Homo sapiens: one gene and its partner. The protein of the gene in region 1 interacts with the protein of each later gene in a pairwise test. Each region holds a gene or a part of one and is shown in the gene's direction. Other genes may lie near its edges.

Region 1 (7,021 bases):
ACCCAGGCAACCCTACTCCTAGCTTCACAACAAAGGCTTGAGATCAGGAGGAAAACAAAGTGTTCCCCCAATAGTATATACAGCAAGAGATCCTTACAGTTAGGCTGCAGAAGAATTGGAGTGTGTGTGTGTGTGTGTGTGTGTGTGTGTGTGTGTGCGCGCGCGCGCGCGCGCGCACATGTGTGTGTGTTTGCCTGCCTGCCTATCAGCCTCTCCACATTCCCAGCTCTCAGCTCTGGCTGTTTTGTGTCATTGAATGTTGGAATATTAAGGGATCTTAGATCTTCTGAGACATTAAATTACTTTTTCCAAAGTGACAGAGAATTCAAATTTCTGGCTTTTAATAAAACGCCCTTTCTGCTCATTTGATGTGGGGGGTGTCTTTGTTTGTTTGGGCTGCTATAACAAAATATCTGAGATTGGGTAATTAATAAATAATAAGAATTTAATTCTCACAGTTCTGGAGGCTGGGAAGTACAAGATTGAGGTGCAAGCAGATTTGATGTCTGGTGAGGGCCTGGTCTCTAACTTCCAAGATGGCACCTTGCATGTGGCATCCTCACATGGCAGAAGGCAGAAGGGCCAAAGGGCCAAATGCTGTAGGAAGACTGTTTTATTCACTTCTTAACCTCATCCACAAGGGAGGAGTCCTCATGACCTAATCACCTCCTAAAGGCCTCACCTCTTAATACTTTTGCATTGTGGATTAAGTATCAACATGAATTTTGGAGGGATCACAAACATTGAAACTATAGAGGGTGTCTCTTTCTTCACTGAATAGAAGAGATGACCCTGGACCAGGATAGGCATGAAGGGCCATAGGCAACTGAGACAGGGTCAGTTGGCCAGAACTGTGACTGCCTGTGCCCTGATGGGGTAGAAGCACCATCTCTGGTGGTGGAGAGTCCCCTTACAAAATGGCTCTGTGTGTGTGTGTGCATGTATGTGTGTGTGTGTGTCTGTGTGTCGATATCCATAACTGCACAAACATTCTCTTTTGGGTCTGTTTCAGCAATGCAAACCTCACAAGAGGCCTGTGTGTGGCAGTAATGGCAAGACCTACCTCAACCACTGTGAACTGCATCGAGATGCCTGCCTCACTGGATCCAAAATCCAGGTTGATTACGATGGACACTGCAAAGGTAAGGTGTGCTCTCACCACTGCAAGGCAGCTTTAGCCACGGGGAGCCAAGGAACAGAGCAGTGTGGCCTGGCTGACCACATGGTCTTTCCTCCACGACCACAGCCTCTCAAAGCTGTGGAAAGCGCCCAGTTGGTTGGAGTTGCATCCTCTTGTCACTTATGAGCCTGCTGGGTTTGCCCTGGATGGCCCAGGCCTCTGCCCAGGGTTTGCTATATCAGATCCCCATGGGGGTTTTCAGCACTGTCTGCAGCTGGATAGTAGATAGGGTGGACCCCATCAGTAAATCAGTAACAATAAGAAAGTTCCTTAAATGAATTATGTACCTTTTTAGAAAGTAGGTAAGTTTCACTTTTCCCATGCTTTTTAATTTGGGCACCTCTCAGTATTGTTTCCTCTATTTTGCACTGAAACCACTGCCATTAGAATAAGAAGGAAGAAGTCCCACACTTGTTGCTAATTAGATACCAGCCCCCTGCCAAGCCATAGCCCTGCCCAGCCCCTCTCAGCCTTGCCCTTCCTTGAAGAAACAAGAAGCTGTTTCCCAGGTGATTGTCTCCACTCCATTCCCTGTCCAGAATGATTCTCCATTTGAATTCTCAAAATCCCAGTGACCCCTCAATGCAACAGGAGGAGGTATGAGGCCAGAAGGGTAACTCAGTGGCCCTAAATTGTCAGACAAAGCAGGAGACAGAAGATCCTCATACCTGGGCCCTAGAAGAAGGAAAGGAAGGGAAAGGATTCAAGACAAAATGATGAAAAGGTTACAAACATTCCCCTACATGTAGAGCAGCTGTAATCCTAGAAATACAGAAAAATTTTCTTTTTTCCTTCACTTCGCATTACACGTTTTCTCTTTTTGTCTTGCAGAGAAGAAATCCGTAAGTCCATCTGCCAGCCCAGGTGAGTGCCTATTTTTTCTACTGTGTGCATCTCAGGGAGGACATTCTTTTCATGATAGAAATTTTGTGTTCCACAATCCCTGCCAAGCTCATAAGATCTTCTATGCATCAGAATTGTGTCCCAGAACTGGCCACTCCTCAACACAGCTCAGAAAAGCTGCAAAACTACATTTGTGTATGTGTTTGCCAATTGAAGCAGCTGGTTGGGTCAGAATGTTGGCTGTGTTTTCCCATTTTTCCTGAGTAGTGATTGAACTGCATAAACAGGAAAGCCACTGAGTTCATTTTTCAACATCCTATAAGACATGCTCGTGTCATGGGACCAGCAAATAGAAGGCACAACTCTTTTTGAAAGGGGATAACTGGAAATGCCAGTAAGACTTCTGTGGTTTTCTATTAGTGATCACTAAAATTTTATCATGATTTATAGTTACAGAGCTTTTTTGCACATACTTTCCTTAGATTCTCACGGTAGCCTTTGTGAAGTAGATCTTATTGTAATTACCATATAGATGAGGAAATTGAGGCTCAAAGAGGCTAAGTGAGTTTTCTATATCACACAGCTAGTAATTGGCAGACTGGGGAAGAACTCCCAGATTTTCATTCCCCTGGCCCAGTGCCCTTTTCACCCACAGCATGTGTTGTCTTCCAGGAATTCTCTTTTGCCAAAGCTTTCTCTCCTCTGCTTCCCCATCCACTCAACTCTCAGCACCCCCTGTTATTTCCAGTGGACAACAGCTGTCCAGAGCAGGGCTTCGACGTAGCCCTCACTGGCCTTCACATTCTGTTGTTCATAATAAAGGATGATGCAGGTGGTATACAGTTGTAAGTGGGGGGAAGTTTGGATGGACCTAGTTGGTGAGAAAGGGAGAAACTGGAGAAAATCAGAAATCTAGTAGCATAAAAACTGTAATATTCTCATTTATTCATGTATTATTTCAGCTCATCTTTGAGTCAAGAGAGCTGCTTTATTGATTTTTTCCCCTTCAGCTTCCTAAAGTTAATGAAAGTATCCTTTATTATTTTTCTGCTCTAGTTATTTCTCACATAAGCAGCAAAATCTCTCTGTTTCAATATTCTCAATCTTTACAAATATTTTAGAGATGGGTGCTTGAATCCTGGGCTAGACTTTTTCCAGTTGTGTACCCTGGATGTGCTAATCCTATCTCCCTGTGTTGCTGGGATGACATATGCAGAACCATGGGCACGGATGCTCCCACACAGTGGGTGCCAGATATCACTGGGGTCCTCCCCTGACTGCTCCAGCTGACATCCTCCACTTTCCTGCAGTTGTTTGCTATCAGTCCAACCGTGATGAGCTCCGACGTCGCATCATCCAGTGGCTGGAAGCTGAGATCATTCCAGATGGCTGGTTCTCTAAAGGCAGCAACTACAGTGAAATCCTAGACAAGTATTTTAAGGTAATCCAGAGGTAGGAGGAAGACTATTCAGGCCCATAGAAAGGGAAGCTTCCTCCTCCCATTGCCCGATCACACCTTCCCAGACCACAGGAAATGTAAACCTGCACAGACACCCTGAGTTTCCTCATCATAGATCATTCATGAAGCTGTGAAAGTTGCCTTCTGACCAGCTTGATCAGTGGGAGTAAGCAGTGGAGTCTTTGGGATCTAACACACATGTGCTGCTGCCTTCAGGCAGTGAAAGCCACAAAGGTCTTGGAGAACCTGTCAGTTAGGGCCAAGCTCTGTCCCCTACTCGCCATGACACCTTATGGATCTGGCTGTTAATACAAAATTCCCTCTGATTGCACCCAGACCTGGACCACTTTGGCCTCTTTCCTGCCTAGTTTGACATTTCTCTAAGTCATTAACTTGACTGCCAATGGCTTGGAGAGAGTCTTCATATGAGAAGAATCAATGGACTGGCATTTCATGGGTCCAGAGATTGTTCCTGAACTTAGATATTGCTGTTCCCAATCATAATTAGTTGAAGAGACAGAGTGTTCCACTTGGGAGCAGGAGAGATGCTATTTTCACAAAGAGAAATGAAGGAAGCTATAATATTTAGTGATGGCTCGGGTTATCATGCCATGCAGATCTTTCACAGAACTTGAGAGTTAGAAGAAGCAATTAAGGGCATTCTTACAGCTGATTGACAAGAACAGACACACACACAGGTACATCACACTCAGAATATCACACTCAGAAGCACAGAGAAGGACACACTTAAACTCAAAACATGCCAGACACGCACACACACACCACATACAGAGACTCACATGCCACACAGAGACACATCCTACATGCAGACACATTCAGATACCCACATTTCCATGCAAGCACCAAAGCCCTCTTCACTAGGTAGATGCCCCAGCCATCTACTCCCTCACATGCTTCCAGGGCCCAACCCAGCCAGGACTCAGGAGCAACTTCAGACACATGAAGGACTTTTCTTGGCAGCTCTGAGGCCACCTAATGTGGCCAATGCCAGTCTAGTCTGTGGATTTCTCTTTCTGACACTATAGAACCCGCAGATGAAGAAATACTGGGTTGGCTTCAAATGGATATTTGGTCATTTAAGACTTCACTTGTGTCATTTTTACATAGAGATTTCTCTCCTCTATGGCAGATACTAAATCTCTGGATTCCAAGTTTTTGAGATCATACCCAGATGAAAAAGCACAGCCTTTCTTGCTCTGTCCTCTCTCTCAATCACTCCCACATTACAGAGCCCTTAGAGGAAGAATGGTTCCTCTTCTACAGAAAAACACATCATAGTGCTGAGCCAGGAGACTTGGACAGGAACAGAAAGTAATGTAAAGAAAGTGACTGTTCAAAAGCTGAGCGAATGGTAAAGGTACCTGCAGGGCCTGCTGTGTGTGAGCAGTGACTTTGCCCTGCAATTACAGCATAGGAGGTGTGGGGCCCAGGACACTCCTTCCCAGGGGCCACTTAGGACGTTGTAACCATTTTTTAGTGGCCCTTTGATGGCACTCTGCCTCAGGCATCACTGACACCTGCTATTAGATTTGATTCCCAAGAACCTATGCCACATTCCCCTCAACACATCTCCATCTCCTCCAGCAGTAACTCACTTTTACAGGCTCCCTTCTGAAAGCTATAAGGCCCTTTGGGAAAGTAGCTCTTCTCTAGGACATTCTCACAACCAGGCATCTAAGAAAGCTTGATCATGACTGACAGACACAAAATCCCCTCTTCCCAGACACTCTGGCAGTGTCTAACAGGAGAAAACAGGTTTCATTTTCTACTTTTTGATGATTATCAGAGTCTTACATGCTGCTGTCTTCAAAGGGAGACTGCCTCCTCCTAGGTCAGCAGCTGCCTGTTGGTGAGAGGTCTGATATCTCAAAGAGACTGTTATGAACCAATGAAATGCTCCCCAGCCCAGCTGGCATTTCTTACATCAAAATTGTTCAAAAACCAAATTGAATTAGAATTTGAATAAGGCCAAAATCTGACTTTCACCATAACCAGTGATGTAGTCACTGTTTCTTAGGTGAAAGCGTAACAGAATGAAGAAAGAAAGACCCAGGTAGAAAGAGCCTTCCATGCTCTTGGAATTTGGAATCTAATCCATTCCTAATTTCATCTGGGTGTGATCTCAATCCCTGTGGCTCCTGATGGCCAGGGCTGACACTTGAGCCAGCCTTCTTATCTCCTTTACCCTGGCACCACAGCCCACACAGCCCCAGCTGCTGTGCACAAGCAAGTGCCTGTCTCAGCCCATCTCCTCTGAAGAGTCTCCAAACTTACATTGATAAGCCCCAAGAACAGATCTCATGACATACATCTTTTCTGCCTTTCCACAACCCTACAGTTAGATAGAGGAAAAGTTTTGTTACCTCAAATGCTGAAATCTGAAACTTTTTGAGCACCAACATGATGCCATAAGTGGAAAATTTCACACCTGAATTCATGTGATGGGTAGCATTCAAAACACAGTCAAAACTTTGTTTCATGCACAAAATGATTTAAACTATTGTATAAAATTACCTTCAGGCTATATGTGTAAGGTATATAGGAAACAGGGATGAATTTCATGTTTACATTTGGATCCCATCCCCAAGATATCTCATTATACATATTTAAACTTTCCAAAATCTGAAATCTGAAACACTTCTGGTCCCAAGCATTTCAGATAAGGGATAATCAACCTGTATAGAGCTGGGGAAAGAGGCACAGAGAGATATTATGTCTTTGTAACTGACTGGCTGAAGAGAGGCTCAATAAATTAGGTTGGTTCATGGTCCATGATTAGGACCTCACAGGCAGACCCCCCAGGCATTCCAGGCTATTTCTGGGGCAGGCACCAGAATTCTGTGTTCCTGTGGATTCTACATACAACTCTGGCCTGGGGAGGCCCAACTGGACCCTCATGAGTTGAGAAAGCACATGGGCTGGACCTTCCCCCAGCTGCAGGCCTTATTCTAGTCCTACTGAAGTGTGTGTACACAGCACTGCCTTTTGAGAGCTGCCTGGACTGTGGTTGCCAGGTTCATGGTGCCCACTTGGGCCATGTGGCACTGGGTCTGTAGCTAGTGCTGGACGTTTCCCCTCCCTACACTCATTCCATCATCAGGCCCTGATGACACTGGAGTCTTTGAGGGTTGCTGTCATTTACCCAGCACATGCAATATTTGAACTCAAGAAAGCCCTGTGCTACTAACAATGGCCCCCAGCCAAACTTATTTAATTATTTTCCATTAATTAATCAAGACTTCACAAGGTAAACAGGGAAGTTTCGTCAGGGAAAATTGTATAGTGAATAAAGGACATCAGAGACCTGTTCCTAGGAATTAGGACAAGAATGATAAGTACGTACTAAGCAAAGGCCTAATAGTTGTTTCATGCACACCTTCATTATACAACATTAGAGTGGAACACCTGTGACACATGGCAAGCAGGAGAGGAGAGTTGTTAGCTACATCTTCCCCTTCTATCTAGAAATTTGGATAGATGTTTCTTCCAGAATCCCTTGCACCATCTGGGGAGCCATC
Region 2 (7,581 bases), on another chromosome or scaffold:
GAGGGGAAGAACGTTCAGCTTCCTGGACCCCTTGAGAGGAGGGGGAGGCTCAGGGGCTCCTGCACTGTGGCTGAGGGCAGCTGCATTCTGATCTTCAGAGTCCTTGCAGGCTTCGGATTGAAGCTGGTTTTCAAATGATCAGCCAGGCAGTATGGACTGCAGGAGGAATAGGTCAAAAGCCAGCAATGGTCCAGAAGGGGAGAGGTGGAGGGAAGGGCAGGAGCCACACACAGAGCAGACAGGACCTGGCAGGAAAGCCATGAGCTGCTGGTGCTGGGGACACCAAAGCGTGCACGTGGGTCTCTGAGCTCCAGGTGTGTGGGGTGCTTTGTCCTAACATAGCAGACAGTGCCGGAGTGCCCCCATCTGCTCCCTCTCCTCAAGGAGACCAGGCCAAGAGTCAGGGTGGGGAGGGGCAGGAAAACAGCCACAGGGAAGGCCAAACCCAGCTCAGCCCAGAGTGGAGTGTTTGGGGTCATCTCTTGCTACCAGGGTCCTCAGACTAGAGAAACAGGTGCCAGCTCTTGGAGGGGCCACAGGTGCATTCTTCTGACCCCACCTACCACACGGGTGACCCAGCCTCACTGAAAAGGCTTGCTCTCCTCTGACCTGGATAAGGGAGGCCAGCCCAGACTTCTGCTGATCAAAAGGACCCAGCAGAGCAGAGCAGGCTCCAAACAGCTTCACCTTCAAGTTGACTGCCCCACGGCAGGGGCTTGGAGAGAGGTGGAGGGAGGTGCAGGTATGACCTCCTTTGAGAATAATGGTGCCAGGTTTTCTCAGTCCTGCAAACTCTGCCCAGCTGGCGCCCTTGTCCACCCACCCTCACTGCCCAGTGGCAGCCCCTAAGTTGGGGAAGCCAGGGCAGCCCTAGGGTTCAGACTCAAAGCCGAACTCCTGTAGATTAGGGTCCTGGCTCAGGGCTGGAAGACCTTCCAGGGTACCACTGAGTGTCCAGGCAGAGCAGGGACCAGCACCCCACCTCACAGACCCCACACGAGTACAATCCTGCAGGGTCGTCTGGAGCCGAGCTCCTTCATGAGATGACAGCGGCTCCCTGAGCCAGCACCAGAATGAGAGACCGGATGAATGTTCCCCAAGTGTCACCACCAAAAGGCAGGGCAGGAAGCACGGGGTGAGCTGGAGGTGGAGTCCATGGGCCAGAGCAGGCCCTGGGGCAGATCCCCTCCCCATCGCTAAGCCCTGTAGAGCTGCCCAGAGCCCCGCTTCTTTCTGGCAGGCACCCTGATTACCATTTGCAGAAAGATCTCCAGCTCTGCAGGCAGGCTGTCCTGCCCACCCTGCTCTGCCCAGGGCTGCCAGCCACTCCTGGGGACCATGTTCCCTTCATCAGCCACATGCTGGGGTATCCACTTCCTCCTTCAGGCTGCTGCCCAAGGGGTCCCCAGACCCCCACAGAGGTGTGGGGACCCTACATCCTCCACTATGCCCCAGGGCACCAAAACACCTCCTGGGTGCTCTAACAGATCAGATGCCACATCCCAGCCAGCCCTAGTCCACGCCCTTGAACCCCTGCTGTCTGCAGGCACACGCGCGCACTCCTGCCTCCCACGGCCAGTAGGACAGGGCTCTCGTAGGTAGGGATGCTACAGGCAGTGACATTCACAAGAAGGCAGCCATGGATGGCAGCGACAACAATCGCTCAGTCTGTTTGGAAACTTACTTTTGGAGTCTCCGAAAGACAATCCCTGAAACCAAACAGAAAGGGAAGCTGTCCGTCCATGGCAGCGGGCAAGGGCGTGCACACTCACGAGGGTTCCACGGAGCAAAAGTAGGATAATTTCTGGGCAGACCTGCCGTCCGAACGGCTGGGAGCTGCGGGCCCCCCGGCGCTCCCTGTGTCTTCTGAGCAGAGACCAGGCTCAGCATCCCGCAGACCCCCACCCTCCCTAGGCAGAGGCAGGAGTGGGCCCTAAGCCAGCAGTACACGCCCTCCAGGACCTGGGGTCCTCCACAGAAGATGGGGGCATGGAAGGGAGGCCCCCACGCCCTGGCCCAACAGGCACTGCCTGCCTCAGCCCGTCAGACAATGCTAAGTGTCCTCTGCCCTCACTGCACCTGTGGAAGAGCAGGTCCAGGCTGCGCCACACGCCCACTCTCAGGGACAAACTTTTCCTCTCAGGTGTTTCCTCACTTGCTCATTCATTCCTTCTTTGTGTCGCATACGTGTGCCCCCACTGTCTAGCCAGGCAAAGACACCAAAGCAGGAGGGGGTGGTCTTGGTCAGAGCCACAAGGGTCACTGTGGTGGCTGGGATTCGAGGCATCAACTATGTCCTCAAACCCATCCACGTGTCCTGTGTGGAGCGGCCCCAGGGACAGCGGTGGAAGAGGGGGCTGATCAGCCTTGCCCATCCTCCCAGAGTCCCAGTCTGGACCCTGCACCCGACTAGCACGGGCAGCCTGGCGGCTCCTGCCCTGGTGACAGCGGGCGTGTGCAGCATTGCCAGGAGGGAAGCAGGGGTAGCTGCAGCTGCTCAGGATCCTGCGGCTCCTCCCAGGTGCAAACACGGCTTTTGCTTCCAATGCCCCCGGCGGCATGTGCATCCTCTCCAGGGAAGGCCCTGGCTACAGGTCTCCTGGCCTGCGGAATGGGAATGATTCCAGGACCTGCGATGGTGGTAAGGACTTCCTTAGGAGATGAAGCCACCCAGGGGTCACCAGGGCCAGGCAGAGGCTGCCACCATCGCGTTCTAAGCCCTGCTGTCCACACTGCCATCCAGAGGCCCAGAACTAGGCTGGAGGAAGGACTTGCCTGGAGGAATAACCCAACCTGGTCAGATTAAGAGGAGGCGTAGACAGTGACGGGGTAACTATAGAGCCTCAGGCCGGGTTAACCTCAAGTCCAGCTTCCTAGGCCCAGGCAGCCCTGCCTGATCCCGCAGTGCGTGAGACCACACAGAGAGAGAGCGGGATCGTGGGCCCAGGCTCCTGACCGTGCTGGATAAGGTGTGCAGGCAGCCACGCCAGGCCCAGGCAAGAAGGAGCAAGCCTGGAGCATGTACTGAACAGGGGTCTGTGAGTCACAAAATGTGACGCAGCAGAGGGTATGTGGGGGAGGGCAGGGAAATGCACACTTGGATTGGGTCCCCAAAGCCTCCCTCTCCAGCAATGACTCAGTGTCTCTGGGTGAAGGAGCAACCTTCTCTGGGAGGCAGGGCAGGAAACCCCAAGAGCCCAGGGGGAGGGCACCCCACCTTCCTGCTCCAGCCCCACACAGCGGCTGAGAGCCCCAGGCACAGAAGGGGTAGGGAATGTTGCCACCACCCCCACCACGGACCCCGCTGCAGCTTCCAGGTGATGCCACAGGCCCTGAAATCAGGACACCCTTGCTGTACATGGGGGTCATCTTGAGGTTCTCTGCCAAGGATACTGACCTCTATGCCTGCCCCCAATTCTGCAGCTCAGGCACCTGGCTTCACCGCCAGGCCTTACCATGTGGAGAACAGGGGGCCGGGGTGGGGGGTCTGGGAGCCAAGGAAGGAGTGAAGCCCTCCAGACACCAACATCGCAGTCCTCGCCCCCTCCCTACAGACCCCATCCAGCCCAACTCCCCATGTGCAGCTAAAGCCACGCGCCCTCCTACCATACAAGGTGCAGGCAGCCCTCCCGCCTTCTTCAAAGAGGCATCTGCTCCGGCTCACTCCACCCTCCTCCCCCAGTGGCCTAACTAGTCGCCGGGTTCCAACCCTATCCCTTCTCCAGAGGTCATCTGGCCCCACCCAGCAGCCCAAACCAGTAGACCGGCCCTGCCCCATCACTTTGGTTTCTCCAGCATCCAAAGAACGTGGAGGGTCACCCCCCCAAAACAGCTGTCAAGGTCCAACAATTAAGCCATCTGTTGCCGCTCCCTGGGACTGGGAGAGGTGAGGTCGAGTTTCTTGGCGAGTTTCCTGCGTGCAGCCCCCACACCACAAAAGCCCCCGGTGCGAGCCGGAGCCCAGCGCGAGACGGCTGGAAGGGCGCGGGGAGGGAGCCGCTGCGGGGTGCAGGCGGGGAGAGGGGCGGCGGCTCGAGGCGCGGCCGGCGGGCGGAGGGTACGGAGGCGCCGGGAGAGCGTTCTCGGGGCGCGCTGCCAGGGTGCAGGAAGCCGGAGCGCGCGGGAGGGAGCGGGGAGCGGGATGCCGATTTCGGCTGGGGGCGGGGAGGCCCCTGATTGGGGCGCGGGAGGCGTGATGTCACGTCCGGCGGGGGAAGCCCTGCCTCGCGCACCCTCCGCCCCCGTCCCCGCCCCCACAGGTGGTGCCACCGCCCTGGGCGCTGGGCGTGGGGGGCCGCCCTCGGGGACCCCGGCCGCGGCCCCGCGCTGCCCGGCTCCGCCGCCTCCCGCCGGGGATCGATAGAGTCGCGCGGCCAGGCGGGCCCTCTGGGTCCCTAAGAGCCAGAGGAGCGCCCAGTGCGCCCCGGCCCGCGCCCCCGCGCCGCGCCCCGCCCCGCCCCGCCCGGTGCTCCCAGTCCCTCCCCCACCCCTGCGCTCCCACCCTGCCCCGCCCCTCTCCTCTCCCGCGGCCGCCTAGGGGCCGGGCCGGCGGCGGGGGAGGCGCCGAGCCGGGACTGCGCTAGCCCGCCGCGCTCTGGGCTGCCCGAGCGAGCGTTCGGACCTCGCACCCCGCGCGCCCCGCGCCGCCGCCGCCGCCGGCTTTTGTTGTCTCCGCCTCCTCGGCCGCCGCCGCCTCTGGACCGCGAGCCGCGCGCGCCGGGACCTTGGCTCTGCCCTTCGCGGGCGGGAACTGCGCAGGACCCGGCCAGGATCCGAGAGAGGCGCGGGCGGGTGGCCGGGGGCGCCGCCGGCCCCGCCATGGAGCTCCGGGCCCGAGGCTGGTGGCTGCTATGTGCGGCCGCAGCGCTGGTCGCCTGCGCCCGCGGGGACCCGGCCAGCAAGAGCCGGAGCTGCGGCGAGGTCCGCCAGATCTACGGAGCCAAGGGCTTCAGCCTGAGCGACGTGCCCCAGGCGGAGATCTCGGGTGAGTGAGGGCGCGGCGCCGGGAACCCGGGCCTGGCCGGGCTTTGGGCTCCGGACCCTGGTCTTCCCGACGCGGCTACTCGCCCCCGGCGCGGGATCCTGCCGCCTGCGCCCCGCCGCCCGGGCCCCGAATGGCTCCCTGCGCTGCGGCTCCTCTGCAACCCCACGGCCCTCGCCTCCAAGCCCCGCGCCGCACTCCCTCGCCAGGGTCTCCTCCGCCCCGCTCGGTCGTCCTCCGCCCCTCCCCGCCCCCCGCACGCCGGCTTCTTCCCTGCGGAGCTGATCTCGCCGGGCTGCGGGCTCGGGGCGCTCCTCCCGGGCCACGGCTGGAGCTGGGCGTCTTCTGCCCGCCGCTCGGCCCAGCGCGCCTGCAGGCCGGGAGTCCCAGCCCCGGGGCCGGCTGTCGGGGCGCTGTGGGGCTCGGCGTGGCCGGGCTTTCGGGGCGCCGCTGACGGTGGCCGCGGACCCCTTCTGCTCTGTACAGACCTCTCTGGGAGGCGTCTCCGGTCCTGCCCGGGGATTCTCGTAGGGTCTCCAGCAAAGGCAGCCTAGGTGGGTTTTATAAGCTGACCCCCTCGGGGGGTAGTGCGGAGGGGTGGGGAGGGAGCTGGGCACTTATCCGCGGGCGGAACGCCGCCGCCTCGTAGAGATTCCTGTCGAAGAACTTGTACGCGCCGGCCCCCGCCTGGCGCTTGGGCAGCCTCGTGCCGCGAGTCCAGCTGCAGGTGGTCGGCGCGTTGGATCCCGCCCAGGGGCCGTGTCATTTCTTTGTAAGAACAGCGGCCCTCTTGGCGCCCCCTAAGCCCTGCAGCCGCCTGCGGCTCTGCCTCTTCCCTCCCTGTGGTCCCGGAGGAGCTTTGGGGACAGAAGTGTACGGGTGGGTGGAACGGTGGGCTCCGTGTGCTAAGGAACTCTTGGAACCCAAGCTTCACCTTTCCACGTGTGGGAACCAACCTCGGTCTGTACCGCGTGCCAGGGACCCAGTGGGCAAGAACAAAACAGACTAGGTTCCTGCTCTGGGGGGCTCCTCTGAAACCAGGGGAGTGGGAGTGCGGGTGGAGGGCTACTCAGATGGGGACTCAGCGCAGAAATGCCCATGGTCCTGGGGATTCTGAGCAAGAAGGATCCGTGCATCTGGGTGAGGGGGGTCTGTGGCCATGCCTTGCCGCGGGGGGCGGAGTGGTGGGAGGAGGCAGTCGGGCTCTGGACCCCTGCCCCTCCAGGAGGAACAGAACCCACAGACAGCCCCTTGCCCTTGGTGGATCTCCCGATGCCCCCAGCCTGAGGTTCTTGTAAGGGCCCCCTGACCGCCCCCCACAGAAGGAACAGAACCCGCAGACAGTCCCTTGGCGGATCTCCCGATGCCCTCCCCACCAGCCTGAGGTTCTTGCAAGGACCCCTCCAAAGTCCCCAGGACAGGCCTTCCTGTGCCTCTGCAGAGGCAACCCTGTCATTTCCAGGCTGCCCCCCTCACCCCACTGGGCTCTGTCTGTCCCAGGTAGGGGGCACACCTGGATGCCAGGCAGCACAAGGCCCTCGGCACAGTTGGGTTCGTTCTCTGCCCCTCTACTCACACATAAAGAGGCATCCCTGGCCTTCCTGGTGAATCCCTCCCCAGGCACCAGGGTAGCAGAGTGGCTGAGTGGCTGCCCCTCCCAGCCCAGAGTCTTGAACCCTGCTCCTTTGGAAACCATTAGCCCCCAGCCCTTCTTAGCACCTCCATGTCCTCTGGGCAGTTGCATCCTTAGGAGCCAACCTAACCTTCCTTGCATCCACAGGCCACTGTTGCCAGTTAGAGAGACAGAGTGGCAGAGTTTGGCCATCTCCCAAGGGTGAGAAGAGAGGGCAGGACAAGATGGAGAAGTTGATGTGGGGCTGGGCCAGAGAGTGTGGGTCGTGCTGCTCTTGGGTTGGGGAATGCAGTGGGTTAGGGACCCAGGACAGGCAGATTGTGTTGATTTCTCTGTGTCTGATGGGGCAGGGGATGCTGTCCACCCCGCGTGGGGAGTACGAACGCCCTGCAGCTGTCTAACCACGGTGCCAGCCATGGGCCAGTGCCTGCTGCCAGGGCTCGGGGTGCCACCCTCCTCCAGACTTGCAAGGCCAGGACTGCACTGGGCAGGATTACTGCCTCTCCAGTCGGTGCCCCTCCGACAGGAACCTCTCTCCCTGCACCCCCTATGGCTGCAGAAGTGGGGAGTAACCTTCGGGACCCAGGGTACAGAAGACAGTGTGGGAGCCACGTGGGCTGAGGGAAACAGGGTGACTCCCTCGGGTCGCAGCAGTCCTGGGGCAGCCAAGCCCAGTGTCCCCTCCTGCTTTGTCGGCTGGGCCTGGGCTCCGTGGAACGGGCGCCCTCTGGTGGCCCCTGGGCGGCAGATCCTCCCAGGAGCCCTGGACCCTCTGTGGCCTAGTAGGCACCATTCTCAGTCCCCTCTCTCCTGCATCCAGACTTCTCCAGGGGGACCTCCTCAGAGGGAATGCGAACCCCCTGGGGTTGGGCACCTCGCTGGCCCGGAGCAGGTGGGGTAGAGATCTGATACTTCCTCGTGGGAAGGAGAGCAGTTGGCCCTGGGTGTGTGGCGGGCCTTCCCAGCC

Evidence for each region. Proteins that work in one complex are often made in the same cells at the same time.
Region 2: the proteins of FSTL1 (region 1) and GPC1 interact in a two-hybrid assay, tested with the Homo sapiens proteins (one study listed by IntAct).

Annotation. Positions count from the first base shown.
Region 1 is NC_000003.12:120,405,975-120,412,995, reverse strand, and holds part of FSTL1 (follistatin-related protein 1 precursor), read left to right. Parts: intron 1-1,012; coding exon 1,013-1,142; intron 1,143-2,011; coding exon 2,012-2,044; intron 2,045-3,333; coding exon 3,334-3,464; intron 3,465-7,021.
Region 2 is NC_000002.12:240,431,101-240,438,681, forward strand, and holds the start of GPC1 (glypican-1 precursor), read left to right. Parts: upstream 1-4,562; 5' UTR 4,563-4,818; coding exon 4,819-4,984; intron 4,985-7,581. UniProt on the Homo sapiens protein: Cell surface proteoglycan that bears heparan sulfate. Binds, via the heparan sulfate side chains, alpha-4 (V) collagen and participates in Schwann cell myelination.